Homo sapiens: one gene and its partner. The protein of the gene in region 1 interacts with the protein of each later gene in a biochemical or structural test. Each region holds a gene or a part of one and is shown in the gene's direction. Other genes may lie near its edges.

The links.
Region 2: the proteins of CITED1 (region 1) and TFAP2B form a complex in vitro, tested with the Homo sapiens proteins (one study listed by BioGRID).

The regions. Positions count from the first base shown.
Region 1 is NC_000023.11:72,302,350-72,310,177, reverse strand, and holds the start of CITED1 (cbp/p300-interacting transactivator 1), read left to right. Parts: upstream 1-4,263; 5' UTR 4,264-4,353; intron 4,354-4,755; exon of another isoform or gene 4,756-4,863; coding exon of another isoform or gene 4,864-4,876; intron 4,877-7,243; coding exon of another isoform or gene 7,244-7,308; coding exon 7,309-7,368; intron 7,369-7,828. UniProt on the Homo sapiens protein: Transcriptional coactivator of the p300/CBP-mediated transcription complex. Enhances SMAD-mediated transcription by strengthening the functional link between the DNA-binding SMAD transcription factors and the p300/CBP transcription coactivator complex.
Region 2 is NC_000006.12:50,821,125-50,828,870, forward strand, and holds part of TFAP2B (transcription factor AP-2-beta), read left to right. Parts: intron 1-307; coding exon of another isoform or gene 308-353; intron 354-1,009; coding exon of another isoform or gene 1,010-1,036; intron 1,037-2,282; coding exon 2,283-2,741; intron 2,742-7,494; coding exon 7,495-7,555; intron 7,556-7,746.

The DNA.
Region 1 (7,828 bases):
CAGGCAGTCCTTGGTTCTGGAGGGTGGGATTTTAAGAAGAAATCTGCATTTTTCTCTCTCTCTCTCCTCCCTGAGTTTATAGACCTCCTTCATCCCCTCTCAGTCTGGTTTTAAAATTAATCATTCAGCAAGTATTACTGAATCTGAAGTGTGTGAGCTGAGGCAGGGACGGGAGGCAAAAGGAAAATAATCAGAAGGTCCAGTACGATAACAGCATTTATTGGCCATTTACTACACTGCGGGCACCAATCAGGCTAAGCAACCCCCACAGATTAGGTACCATTGTTATCCCCATTTAACAGATGGGAAAATTGAAGACCAAAGCATGAAGCCATTGGCCTAAGACTTCACCGCTAACAAATGGCAAAGTAGGAATTTAAACCCAGGCCTACTGACCCCTGAACCTGCACTCTAGACAGCCTCCTTACCCTCCTAGGCAGCGGGGATTAGGGCTGAGGGTAAAAACTTTGCAGACAGCCTGATCCAGATTCAAACACTCAGCCACGTGGCTATGTGAACTTGGGCAATTTCCCGAGGCTCTGTTTCATTCACCTTTGGTAAACCCTACCTCAAAGGGCTGTCCTGGGAATTAAATGAGATGATGGATGGGGAACATGCCAGGCCCAGCGCTGGAGCACAGAGGTTCTCGGTAGGTGACCATCCCTGTCCTCTCCTTGCTTCGCAAGCTCGCGGTCTAGTTGCCAAGTTGGAGATAAGAGTTCAGCGGAGAGCTCTGAGCTCTGCTGGAGCCAACGGGGAAGTCAGTGATCAGAGCATTTTTGCCGAGAAATGCAAATGTCTCCTTTGCTCCCTCTCAGCCTCTGCAACTAACCTCCTCTCCCATCTCCCCAAAAAGGAAAGGGGTGGCTTTTGTGCTTCAAAGCTGAGTGCTTGAAGCCCCTCTCGTTCCTGCTCCCCAGGAGGTAAGCAGTGGAGATGACAGGAAGTCACCAGGGGGGAGACCCTTTCTGGCATGTGGGCACAGAGAAATGTGGTGGAGGGCGCTCCTTTTTCTGCCCTTCAATGGTCCGGATGGGGGAGGGGGCTGGCTGTTGAGCAACTGCTCCGGAGACACTCCAGAAGCCGAGATGAACATATGCCTCTTTCTAACAATTGGCCTGGGAGCCATCCAATAGATGGAGGGCGGATCCACACCTCCCGGATCCGGAGCCTGCAGCGGAGAAGCTGCCGCTGTTGCCAGACCTGCTCCCGAGCCAAGCCGGGGCTGACGGGGAGGGTGGGTCAGGGGTTCAAATTAGTAACATGCAATTCGAAAGCCTAGAGTCGCTCATTCTCCACCACTTAGTTTTCGCAGAAACATTTTTTTTCATCCCAGGCAAACACCAAGAGAACTTGAGAGTGTATTTCACACGCGGTTTGCAGTAAGGCTTTAGGGTGCCGACAGATCCCGCCTTTTATCAGAGGGAGACTAGGCAGGGCCCACAATCTGGCAAGCAAAGTGAGAAAGTGCAGCGAAGATGTGTGGGGTGTGGATGCTACCGGGGTTTGTGTTGGGACAGGGTAAGTGAAAAGACTGGAGCTGTGCAAGGCAGCCTTGAGGGCTGGAGAATGGGTTTACCTGGCGACCAAGACACTCGCCCAAGCTTCCTCCAGATGCCGAGGAAGGGCCTTGATCCGTCTCTCCATTTGCTTCCCATCTTTGTGTCGGTAAGCCGGTCAGTCCGTCAACAAACAGAACTTTGTTAGAAGAGCAAATGCAGGGCACTTGGGGCTACTAAAAAAAGAAAAAGAAAAGAAAAAGAGAACTTCAGGTCTTCAAATCCAATTAAGAAGACAGAACACATACATAGTGAAAATGACTTCGTGACATTCCCTCCCCCCCTTTTTTAACATCAGGACCTTTTCTTAAAGAGTATGTTTTATAAACAGTGTAAACTGAGTCGCTGTTGCTGAAAGGCAGCAAAAAAAGAGCGGCGGGGCCGGGGCGGGGTGGGGGGGTGACAGAGGGGTAATCCCGATGGCCTCCCTGTAAGTGGTAAGGTGGGAATTTCTTGGCCACAAAGAATCCGAATTGAGGTGAAGGAGAAGACCCAGACCTCTTTCCAGTAAGGATTTGTAAGACAACATCTCTACCTAAGAAAGACGAACTCCAAATGCAAAACGTTATTCTTGCTAGACGGGAATGATTATGTAGTTACAATAAAACAACCTGACATCGTGGGAAGGCAGGAGGAATCTCCGCGAACCCTGGGGCAAGCTCTTCGTACCCCGTTGCCTACTGTTGGCTTTTCGGCGAGCCTAGTGAGCTGTACCTGGCCCCACGGTCCGGGAGAGTAGCATTTCTCCGGGTCGCATCCTGCCAGCCTCCTGCCCTGGATGACCACAGAACAGAAACCCTCGAACCCAACCCCAGCTCAGAACTTCTAGAAGAGCCACCGCTGCCATATAGGCCCCCCATGCGACTCTGCCCAGAATCTGGCGACTTTAAGAGGAAAAGGAGCCCCCAGCCTCAGCTCTTCAACGAATGAGATAGTACAGCCCCCCCAAAAGGCAGACAGGCTCCAAGACAGCCCTGCAGAAAACTAATGACCATTCCCCCGTCTCGTGTGCGCCCCGCTCTTCCAGGTCACTCCTTGAGCCCACAGCTCTCTCCCAAAACCCCTGAAGCCCGTTTTGGCCCCCGACTAGATTTAGGTCAGAAAACAGACACTAACGGCTCTCCTTTGCCTCAGTGAAATTACTAAGTGGAATTTATTGGGCAAGTCCACGCAGGGCGGTGGGGAGAGCCGGTGTCCCGGGCCCTGGCCCCCGACAGCTTTAGAAGCCGGGCACTGGCCAGGGCTCCGGGCGAGGGCTGCCCATAGCCCGGACTCGCCAGCCCCACCCCGGGAGCCTTGGCCGGTCCACAGGGCTGCCGGACTCGCGTGGCCGCGTGGACTCCGTTCCCCAGCCGGCCCTTTGCTTTCACACGATCCGCGGTGACTGCACCAGCTCGAGCGCCTTTAAAGGGCCACAGACGCCAGCCGCTGCTATAAAAATGTGCCCGGCGGCAAAGCTGCAGAAGGGGCACCGCTGAGCTGCCGAGAGGAAGCTCGCTCTGCCCGGCTGCCCTCTTGTAGTCCGCCGGCGAGGGGCAGTTCTCGGTGAGGAGGAAGAGAGCAGCGGACGGCACAGCACCCGCGCGGGCCCTCCGTGAGTATCCAGTTCAGATTTTGCCACCAACTCGCCCACGAGCCAGGACATGTGCTAATAATGCCCTAAGCCGGTTATAAAGACGTGGAAATTGAGGGGAGAAAAAAAAAGGGAAAAAAAGGGTCTGTCCTTCCTGGGATTCCTAGCCGAGGCCAGTCTGCTGCCGTGTGCGTGTGCGTCAGGGCTCTCCGGGCGGCAATGGGGGCTTGAGAGCCGGGTCCCCAGCGCCGGGAAGGGAGCGCGGTGGCCGCCACCGCCACCGCCCCGGAGTCCGGCGCCGAAGCTGCGGGCGGGCGGGCGGGCACCAGCTCGGTCAGGGGCTGCTTGGCGCGGCACTGTGCGGTGCAGCGGCGGCGCGGCGCGGTGCGGGCTTTTCCCAGGCGCCCCGGGGTCGGGTGGCCAACGGCGCGGCCGCGGGCGCTGAGCGCGACCGGTTCGCGGTAGCGGTGGCGGCGGCGTGCGTGCCAGGGGCTGGGGGCTCCGCCGCCTCTCTTGCGGCTCACCGAGCTCCGCGCTTCCCTCTCTCCAGGGCAGGCGGCTTCTCAGAGGTAAGCCGGGCCGCCGGGCTGGGCGCCGGGCTGGGCGGCGGGGCCGAGGACTCCCGTGGAGCGGGTATGGGGAGTGGGCGGCCGCCAGGCGGGCCGGAGGGTTCTGGGGAGACTTGCTTTCTGTTGGAAAGCTGCTCTGCTGGGGGCGAGGGGCCGCCCGCCCGCCCGCCCGCCAGCGCTCGGGTTCGCTTGCCAGCGCGCCCCCCTGCCGGCCAGCGGGGCCGGGTGCCCGCTTCTCCCGGGGAGACGGCAGCACCTTTTCTCCCTGCGCCCGCGCTTTCTCCAGCTTGGCTTCCACCGACTTTGCTAATCTCCCGGACCGCATCTGGACGCTCTGGCTCCGGAGCTGCACAAAGCTCAGATTTACTTCGGGGAATTGAGGCAAGAGGGGGCTTTTCGGGCCGAGTTCAGCGGAATTGCGGGATGGAAGTTAGCGAATTTGGGCAACTTGCCTCTACTGCCCAGTCGACCTCAGCCCTCCCCTCCCCCGACACACGCCCACACACACACACCCACGCGCACACCCCTCTCCCTATAAACGCGGGCTGGCGAGCCGCGCGCCGAGTCCCTGCTTCGCAGAGCACCGGACTTGGAGTCAGAGAGACCTGGCTGCGAATCCCGGCTCCGCCACTTTCTAGCGCTGTGACCTTGGGCAAGTTACCGCACCTCTCCGAGCCTCTCTCACTCTTCTCCTAGCGGGGTTTTAGCACTGACCGCAGGCGGCTTGGCTAGGGGGTAGGCTCAGCCTGCTGCCGCGTCGGATGCTCAGCGGGCGCTCAGTAAGTGTTGATCAGGCGCGAGAGTGGCAGCAGCCGGCGCCGGAGTGCGGACTCGCCGCGGAGGCCGACACCCCGTGCCCCTTCCTGCCTGTCCATCCTGTCTCTAAGATCAGTTCCTGATACAGCACTTGCGGGAACGGACGCTCAGGGCCCCGGTGGCCTGGGTGCACGCGCCCGCCGTGCAAGGGATGCTCCCGGCCGCCCCCGGTTCCGCGGCTCCATCTGGGATGCGGCGAGGAGGGCAGCCGAGCTGTCCGCAAACAACGGGCCTTTAGTTTTCAGGTGGCGAAACTGACTGGTCTGGTTAGAGCGCGTCCAAGCCAAGCCGCAGTGCTGTTTGGATTTTTAAATTTCTCCTTCTGAGTGAGAAAATAGCAATCGAGATGGAACCATCCGGTTGGTGCCATTTTAACTTTTGGTCCCCCAACAGGTTAAAGATGAGGCCCCCACCTGCCTCTCCCTTCTCTTTTCCCTCTCCCCTTCCCACCCCTGTCTAGGCGGGAGGGGGCTGCTCGCCCAAGGGAAGGCCTGAAGCGAAGAGCGGGCAGCGGGACTGGGAACTGGTGGCCGGGGGGCCGCCAGGCATCAGCCGGCGAGAAGGCACTTGTTGCTCTAGGTTTCCCAGCCGCCTGTCGCAGCCGTTTCGCAGTGGTCAGCTCGCGGCTTGGAGAGCGGGCTGGGACGTTTCCGCGTTGCCAAGTTTTGCCCACGAACGGGCTAGAGGGTGGTGGAGGAGGGCAGAAAGCCGGGGAAGCAGAGCCAGGGATGCCGATGGAAATGCGATTGCTTCTTCAGACGCATTCAACAACACTTACTGAGCGCCTATTGAGCGCAGACCCAGGCTGGGGTCAGGGTGGGTGGTGGGTCAGTAATGGAAGGCAGAAGATCTGAATGGACACAGGGCCTCTTCTGGGGGAGCTCCCAGATTGAAGAGGGAGGCGCGGTAAAATGGTCTTCCCCCACGAACTGATATCAGAATAGAGAGAGTTTTTTTGCTCGTTCTCTCTTTTGATTTTTCTAATGTTTCTCTTTTGGTTTTGCTGTTGTTGCTGCTGCTCCTGTTGTTTTTTCTTCGTTTTGTACATTCGGGTACCAAGCGGCAAAAAGGAGAGGGAAGGCTGGATAGGAACAGGAAAAGATGGACAGGGCCCCCAGACATTTTTCTTAGGACAGGAAAATTGTCTGATACTGATTGTGCTAGGGCTCTTGAAGACGACATGTGTTAGACTTCTTGTCTGGTGATCACTTGCTTTTGAAATATTTTTCTACGGTTGCCTCAGAGAAGGAGCAGGGCTTCAATCAAGCAATGATGCGGGACCCAACAGCTGATATTTTTTCCTCATGTTTTTAAAAAAATGTTTACCCCTTTCTCTATTTTTTCCCTCCCCTACCCCCATCCACCCAAGTAAGCAATGCAAAGATGATACAGAGAGGTAGTAAGTGGCCACTTTCTAGAAGTGTCTGAGCAGATTCTTAATGACCGCTGCGGAGTGGAGAGTGTCACGGAGAATTCTAGCCTCCTTGGAAAGATTAGAGACTCTTTTTAAGGTCCTCAAGATTCTTTGGACCAAGAGGTATTTATAAATATGAAATTCTACATCTCTAATTGATCATGAAAGCTAGAATATATGGGGCTTTTTTTTTTTAAAGAGATAGGGTCCCGCTATGTTGCCCAGCCTGGTATCAAACTCCAGGGCTCAGGTGATCCTCCCACCTCAGCTTCCTGAGTAGCTGAGACTACAGGAGGGTGCTACTGTGCCTAGCTATGGGACATTTTTTTCTTCTTTGTAAACAGGCCTCCAGGAAAATAAGTTGAGATTTTCAGAGGTTTGTTTATTTTCTGGTTTGGAGGTATTCTTTTGCCTTCATTCCCTTATCCTTTGGCACTTGAGCCAGGAAATCACTTCTTTGGAAGCCTTTTGAATCCAGCTAGGTATGATGACTTAGCCAGTGGTCAGGTGAGGCATGTGGCCATAGGGGTGCTAGATTCTGCTCCCAGAACCGCTGCTACCTGACTAAAAAGGCATTGAATCTCTGTGCCTCACTTGTCACTATAGATGGGAATGGCTGGACTCAGGTTTCTGGGGTAGGCATCCTAGGAAAGCCCAATGCTGGGGCTGTCTTGGAGGGGGCTTGAGACATGGAGGAAAGTGACACATTCCTAGCTTCTCTGGCTCCAGCTGCCTCAGAGCCCCCAGACCACCCTAATCAGCCTGGCTTCTCACAGGCATGCCCAAGGTCATGCTTTGGAGCTCCATGACATTTGCGCTAGAGACTTGTTATTTCCCTGTGCTGCAGCCTCTAGCTTTCTAGGTCTTCCTTGCCCTGACTTCTTCTCACATTCTCCCAGTCCCAGTGGAGGCCCCAACTCTCCAGCCTGGATGCTAGTAGCCCATTGAGACAATATGTTGCTTACTCAGGGACATTCCTGTCCTCTGAACCAGGAACAGTGCCACCCTCACCCCCACACATACACCTTGGGACTGTGAAGTCACTTGCATGAGGAAGCAGTATGTCCCATCTTGGTGATATGGGTAGGTGGCTGCCTGGGCAGTACCTGGCCGAATCAAGCACCTTTCCTGCCTCAGGCAAAAGTTCCAGCTTGATCTCCTCCCTGTGCTCGGGTGATCTCTGGTCTTGATTCTAACTCAGTCACCATCCTTGCCTCATAGCTGCGTGGCATTGCCCTGCTTTGGGCTTTGCTAGTGCTTTGTTGGTCAGTGAAGCCTTTTGCCCTTACCACTGCTTCTTCCTCACTTGCAGCACAACAGCTCCAGCTGGCAGCATCACTTCCCGCCAATTTATCCAACTTCTGCCAAGGCTCTGAAATGCCAACAACGTCGAGGCCTGCACTTGATGTCAAGGGTGGCACCTCACCTGCGAAGGAGGTAATTTTTGCCATTTTACAGATGAGGCAGGGAAAGACAAATTTTCCGGGGTCATGGGCCAGGCCCTCCTAGGTGCATTACCCAGTGTCCTTGAGCAGAGAGGAGACAACAGGACTATCTCTGGGGAGAATGAGAACAGCTTCTGCCTAAATTGTGGTCAGATTGAACCCACTAGGGGTGTTGAAAGATGGCAGGGAAGGGAGCAGAGAAATTGAGTAGGAGCAAAACCACTCTGTTGAAGAGACTAAAGTGAGGCTGAGAAGAGGGACAGGAGGTGCCCTTTTTAGGATGGTGAGGTGGAGGCTATGGGGAAGGAGCTGAAAGCAGTGAACCCACTTAGGATGGCAGGTGCTCCAGCACTGTAACTGGGCTCTGGCCTCAGTGCTCAGAGCCATGGCAGCAAAAGGATGCTTGAGGTGGGAGCCTAATTTTCAAGGGGGTCGTCTTGCTACCTCTCCAC
Region 2 (7,746 bases), on another chromosome or scaffold:
AAAAGGTTTTCTGTTGCCCCTGGCTTTGCCTGGAAAGGATAAGTTTAGTGTATTTGAAGATTGATGGCGTATGTTTTAAATTGAGGTAAAAATCGCAAACTATGTGAGCACTAAACAGGAAAAGGCTGCACAGGAATGAAAAGCCTCCATCTCGCTTCTGTCCTTTAACAAATGAGCATAATCTTCCACATTTAGCAAAAGTCTGCAAAAGTCACTGTAAATAACCAGGCCCACCAATTTGCCTTTCTCTCGCCTCCAAATGATGAAGCAACCCTTTTTATTTTGTTTTTGTAATCCTCACACAAAGCACCCAAGGCGACCAAGTCCTCCGGATTAGGGAAGTCTCTCTCCAGGTAGGAGGACACCTCCATTCTATACAACCTCCCAGCACTGTTCTCCCTCACTGCCTTATCCAAAGGAGCAGGGGCTGCTTTACTCGTGTCCCCGGCACAGTTAATTGAAGTTCTGCCTCTTTCCTGCTAAACTTTTTCCCCAGTCTGCCTTTGCCAGCCCCCTCGTCTGATTACATCTAGTAATTCTCCACTGAATGAACGTCATTTACAATAGTAGGGGAGCTCTGCGCTCGCTGCTGCTTCACGCTCCATTTGTCCTCTATTCTCCCTTTAAAGTACTCGTGTAATATTAATAGTCATGAATATCAATTATTATGAGGCGGTGTAGGCAAGCGGAGGGAGGAAGGGGCGGCCGAGCAGTCTGAGCCCAGCTTCGGGTGAAAGAGGACTGCATCTGGAGCCCCGAAGAACGGCAGAAGAAAAGAGGCCAAAAAGACAGCAAAGAGACAGATGAATAGTTCTGTCTGTGTGTGACAGGCATCGCCAATCTTGTTGGGGTGGGGGGCGGGTGTAATTTTTTTTTTTTTTTTTTGATGGCTTGTCCTGGAAACACATCAAGCTCAGCTCCTGTGTCCAGCTCGCTTCTCTGCTGGACTCCTTGATTTTTTTTTTAATCATTGTTTGATTTTGAGCAGTAACCAGGCTTTTTTTTCCAGATGTTAGTCCACACCTATTCATCCATGGTGAGTTTGGATTCACGTGTTACCAGAATTGCATGCTCCCTCCTCTCACTGTCTCTCTGTCTCTGCGTCTCTGTGTGTGTGTGTGTCTCACACTCTCTGTCTCTCTCTGTCTTCCTTTGAGCGCCTTTGGCTTGGTAATTTAGCACCATAATTGGACGAGGCTGCAGCTGCTTCTCTCTGCATTGTGTGTTCTCCGTCTGAGCTCCATGAGTCAGCTGGGAGGGGAGAGGCCGAAAAGAAAAACTTTTTATTTGCCATTGCTGTTTGGAAATTTAGGTGACTATTTCTGCAAAAAGAACCATGGGGAGTTTACCATGATGTTTCCAGAGAAGAGAGGGAGAAACAAAGTCCACCTCCCTCATATACACACCTCCCCCTTCTTCTTTCACTTAGTTCACACTCCAGATAGGACCAGGAATAAGTTGTCTGGGCTTTTATTTCCCCCCACCCCAACTTTAGTTCCTTCATTTTCACATCCTGAGTATAACAGCATTAGATATAGAAAAACAGTCTTAGAAATAACTCCTATGAACCACAACTCAACTTAATTCATCATTGGCTTAGGATATGATTTCGAATGAGATCCATTTCAATGAAACACTATTTAAGTTATTTAATTTCTCCTGGAGAGGGAGGAGTGACTGGGAACTCAGACCAGGTGGATTCCTTGGAGCTCTTGGAATGATCAGGTTGTGTGGAAAGCTCCTCCTAATCAGCCAGCTGCATTTCCAGCGAAGGCAGAAGTTGGTTTTTAATCAGGGGGAGCAGCACAGCAAATACTATGAAGTTTTATTTGTTGTGATTTGTACCTCTGGAAGAGTTAGAAAAAAGTAGTTAAAAACACCCAGAGGAGCAAACACCATATGTAAGACTCCTACAATTTTAATTAAGGCATTTAGAATCTCCCTCCATACACACTGTTCCTGTACCCCTGCCTTTTGCCTGCTTTGCACTCCCCAAAAAGCGGCTAAAATGTTATAGTTAAGTGGGTGATTCCTTTCCCATTTTCTCCCCAAGCCTGGGGTTTGAAATTGCTGAAATCATGTGGCCCTCTGAGTCAACTTGGGGGTCTAAGTTTCAGATCCTTGCTTCCCTTGTCCCGGGAAGAGCGTACAAAAGCCGGGCTTCTCCATTTGTCACTTGTATTTTTTTTCTTCCTCTCTGTACTCTCTGTCTCTCTCTGCCTCTATCTCTCTTTCTCTGTCTCCTTCTCTGGCTCTCTTCCCCTTCCTCTCTCCGCTCCCAGGACCGGCACGATGGTGTCCCGAGCCACAGCTCGCGGCTCTCCCAGCTGGGCTCGGTGTCCCAAGGACCCTACTCGAGCGCCCCGCCGCTGTCCCACACCCCGTCGTCGGACTTCCAGCCGCCCTACTTCCCACCCCCCTACCAGCCGCTCCCCTACCACCAGAGCCAGGACCCCTACTCCCACGTCAACGACCCCTACTCCCTGAACCCACTGCACCAGCCCCAGCAACATCCCTGGGGGCAACGGCAGCGGCAAGAAGTGGGTTCGGAAGCCGGCTCTCTCCTGCCCCAGCCTCGGGCCGCCTTGCCCCAGCTCTCGGGCCTTGACCCCCGGAGGGACTACCACTCGGTCCGCCGGCCGGACGTGCTGCTGCATTCGGCGCACCACGGCCTGGACGCGGGCATGGGTGACAGCCTCTCGCTGCACGGCCTCGGCCATCCCGGAATGGAAGACGTCCAGGTAACCACAAACAAACAAACAAACAAACAAAAAAGACCACGAATAAGGAATGCTTCTGGAGGGGGGGAGGTCAGGAGAGGGCAGCTCTGTCTCTTTTTGGGGAGTTTGTTCCCATGTTTAGAACAGGACTAGACAGTCATATAGAACTGTTTATGTGTGTCTGTATGTATGGCTCTATAGTGGCGATTTCCAGAGGTCTAATTATGATCATCCAAACCACGAGAAATTAAATCTTGAAGAAGAAAAATATGTATTTGCTTTGATACCTTAAGATTATTAGAATAAAGGCGAATGCTTTTGTCCTGCCTCAGCTACCATCTCCTGCATATTCTCTAGTGCTTTGTGGAAGCCAGCTTGGTACCCCTTCTTTACCAACACACACACCCCATAGTGGGGCTGTCCTGCTGACTTGGCAGGTGAAGACCTGGCTGCCTAGAGGCTAGAGCTTCAGAATGAAGTTCCAGGGGCCTCTGTATGCTCCAGAGGTTGCTGCTGAATTTGCAAAGATTTTGCTAAGCATGACAATGAGCTCTGATCATCTAAGCCAGGTCTTGCTTTGAATGTCTCATAAGCCACAGAGCTTTTTTCCAAGAGATAGTTGCAGTCCTCATCTGAGAAATAGAATATATGTGAAGGAGAAACTCAGAACGCCATAATTCAGGAGTCCATGATGGTAGATACCATTTTGGAAATTCTTTTCACTTTTTGGTTCATTAAGTGACTGTAGTGTAATATTCTCCACCTCCCTCTCCTGGCCTCCGCCTATATTAACACTCTTCTCTCCCCACTGCCATCATCCCAGTTGAGAGGCATCACGTGTTTATTTCTTAAAACAAAAGGCTCAAAACACTCCCCCTACCCACCCACTATCCCATCTGCAGTCTACACAATGGAGCCTGATTTGGTTGAGAATACTTGGTTAAACTAAACAAAGAAACATCAAAGAAATGATTCCTAAAAACTGTTTGGGTGATTCTGAGCAGGTCTGCTTTTTCACCCTAAGTTAAATAGTTGGCAGAAAAGATAAATATAGTTTACAGGTATGTAATTGACACTTCAGTTTCATTGGCATAGTTGTATTTATTATGCATCCTTTGACATACCTCTGAAGCAAAGGAAAATAAAATGGGAAAGAGAAGAGGGTGCAAGAGTCATTCTTCTGTACCTTGCTGAAAAAAAATAGTTTTAAACAGTTAAAATGTGGTGACAGCATCAAATGCTGTCTGTGTGTGGTCTATGATTGTTTATTGTTTTAAAAGAAATTCAGTTATTTATTTTTTTAAAAAAGACGGAATTACCTGATTTGTGCCTGGATTTACTGATAGTAATAAGAGTGATGATGGTTTTGTTGATTTAACTGAGCTTGACTGTTCCTGGCTAGAGATATTGCTCATTTCTGAATATCATATGAAAAAGGAAGTATTTAATAGTTTTTTTTTTAATGCATTGGGGTAATATGTGTCTCGAGGGGAAAAGTTTTTAAATTAACCTTTCTGAGTATGGTTCAAAGTGCTGGATAATGAAAGTGGATCAACTCATCACCATTACTGTTGATGATGCTAATGCCGGCCCTGTTACCACCACCCTACAGGCCAAGTGACTCTAGCGAAGGAACTCAGAAATTTTTCCCCCAAAAGAAGGAGCAGTTTTCTTTAGTTAAATGTTTTTAAAGAAATAATTGAGAGAGGTCTTTTTGTGTTTGGTGAAATTCAAAGTCTGAGAGAAAAACAGGGCCAGATCAGTGCACATTTGGGAGAATAGTCTTGTCAAAGCGTCGGAAAGGATTTAGTGTTTATGTGAACGGAGCACCTCGGGGCCAAGTTGTTGCTGTCGGGAATACAGACCACAGAGGTAGAGAGCTGAAAGGAGAAAAGCAGCAGGCAGCACACCGGAGCCACTTGCAGGCTCTCCACTCACCCAACCCCCACCCTGTTCCTCCCCTGCTTTATCTCATTTCGTCACCTGCCGGGAGGCCCACGGGACCTTCTTGGGACGACCCCTATAGTGCAAGGGACACACCCTGCTCCTGTCCCTAGAGGGAAACAGCAAAGACAGGGACGGTCTCTGCCTCCGCGGTGATGACAGACCTCCCAAGGCCAGGGTGAAGTTGACTGATGCAGGGCAGGTGACAAAGACCAGGGGTTATGTTTCCAGGACCACAGCCTCGAATCCGAAGGCTTCCAATCATCTGCTCAACACAGAAGGATCCACTTCCGAGTTAGGAAGCTGGGGTGCGGGGGCTAAAGTTACACAAGCAGGTTGGGATTTCAACGCTCTCCCTACAGCTATCGAATGGGTGGCCTGCACTGGTCCAGTCTTTAAAAGGGCCTGCACTGGTCCAGTCTTTAAAAGGACCAGAGAGTGCCTAGGCCTGGACCTTAAAGTCACTTGTTCCGATCTCAAGGACCTCGTGTGTGTTCCAGATCCCCTTGAGCCAGGGAGCTGGCAGACACTGAGGGTGCTGCCCTGCCTATGGGTCGAGGGTTTTGTTGTGTGACCCAGATGCACCACACTCAGGGCCACAGCCCCCACCATGAGAGAAGAGAAAGAGGAGAGCTAATTCACCAAATGCTTCTAATATTTTTTTAAATGAAACTATAAAACCCTGTCAATTTCTATTTCAATTTACTCACAGGGGCTATTAAACTAGCAAATCGCTGTTTGGGTTCTGGGTATGCTACATTTCACCCATTGTGCATGAGCGCGCGCGCGCGCGCGCGCGTGTGTGTGTGTGTCTAGTTGGGGAGGGGGCTACAAGTGTTAAAAACTCAGGAAAACACCTACAGAGAGAGAGACAGAGGGAGTGAAAGGACACCTAGTTTGGGATTTGTTTAGTTGTCATGTACACCTCTTTTCTTCTTCCCACCTTTGCTCTCTTACCTCCCATCACCTCTACCACCCATGAATATAAACATATAAGGATGTTAAGCCAACTCCCCCCAAACACATACACACACTCAAACACACCCGAGTGTCTTAAAGCAACCCCTGGTATCACTTTTAACTAAAGAAGTCTAGTAATTACGAGTCTGAGTTGTTTTTCTGCGCTTCCGCATGCAGTCCTAATTAAATCTTTACGATCCTCCCTGTGACGATTAAGCGCCAGCATGCTGCGTGAATATCCTGTACAAAAACCCAGCAGGCGGCCGTAATTAGATAGAAAATCAGACAAGAGCCTTCTCATTAACTACCACAACTACCCCACGTCGCTGATGAGGCGTTTATACATATTTACGTACAAGAGTGAGGGTAAGGTGTGAGGGCTCCCGGGTCCAGGCCAGTGTAAGTCAGGGTCTGGCTGCCCAAGGCACAGGAGAATATTTCTGTCCTGCCTGGACACATTGTCACTGTATACACATGATCATAGAAAGGTGTGAATCGTGTGTGTTTGTGTGTGGCAGGGTCCCCTGAGGAGTTATGAACAAGTTACATGAAATATTTTTAAAACACCTTTTTACTATTTCCTAAGATGTGCATGGCATGTTGCAGCAAGGATAACAATTCCTATGGAGAATAACAATTTTGCTCACTTTTCTGAGAACAAAAGAGTGACTATTAAAAATGAAAAGAAACAAATTAACATGCCCCCTGTACGATTAGATCATCTCATTTCTAAAGTTTTGCTTGTTTGGGGTAGACAGTCTTTTTCTTGTGATGAACTCACACTGTGAGGATGCAGCATGAGTCGGTGTGAGTGCTGTGAAAACAGCTCCTCACTCTCAAGCCCTTTGCTTTTTACTTCTCTATAAAGTGGGTAACAATTTGGTCCCAACTTAGGTTTTGAAGGGTCAAGAAAGTAGTTGTAGATTTTAGAAAGACCTAGCATTTATTTTCTTGGTAGGGAGAGAAAGGGAATCTACTGCTTTTGGACGCCCTGGGATGCACAGCCAGAACTGTTCATGTGTATTCTGACAGTAAGAAACTTGCTCCAACAGCTATTTCCTCTCAGAAGTGCTACCAGTGCTCAGAGTTGAAACTTTCCTTCTCTGGAATGAAACTGTGGCACAGAAGATGAACATTCCTTGCGATTACCTAGGTGCTGACTGGGAGGATCTAGACCTTTGTGTGTGTCTGCTTGTCTGTAGTTACTGCCTTCCTAACAGGTGTGCTCCTTGCTGGGAAGCAGCATCAGCAGGACTGGGAGGGAGGGTAAATTGTGAAGGTTCCTCCAAGAGACTGTCATTGTGCAGCAAGAAGCTCATAGTTTACAGGAACGTGTATGGGCTGTAATGGGTGTGCAGTCCTAGAGGCTTGCAAACATGTTCCTATGTGTTGCTGTTTGCATTCCATTCCAAATTGCTCAGACTTTAATTAAAATCCCATAATGTAAACTATTATGTATTTGTAAAATGGCTCTGGGGTTAAGATGCACTGGGATAGAATGGAAAACACAAATTGCTCTTACTAATATTGGTGAAAATCTGTCAGCTGTTGCCAAATTTTTACAATTCATAAGAGCAAATAATATAAAGGTTTATCTGTCTAATATCTATGTTTTATATAATAACTAAACCAATGTTGCATCCCAGATGTCTCTCAAAGTTTTCTTTCTCCACTTCTTCCATTGGAAAAATTTATAATTTGAGTAAATTTCATTTCTATGTCTATTTGGAGGTAATAATAATAATAAAACAGCCCTTTGTGAATTAATATAAATGGAAATAACAGAAACTCCAGTTTGGAATAACATGATTTATGTGTGCAATTCTTTAATATCCTGTCAATTTGAATAGTGATGTTTTTATATTCACAGTCAGTTGAAGATGCCAATAACAGCGGCATGAATCTATTGGACCAGTCTGTCATTAAAAAAGGTATGGATAATTCCCCCCAAAAAGTAAGCAAAGTTCTCTCATGCATTAACGTCTTTATGATGAATTTTCACTTTGGGGGAATTCATTATTTGACAAGACATAAATGTTTGTTCACAATTATAGGACAATGGCTGTCAGATTAGGGGAAAGGGCATGTTGGGAAGATGGAAGTTGGGCAAGGGAGAATGAAA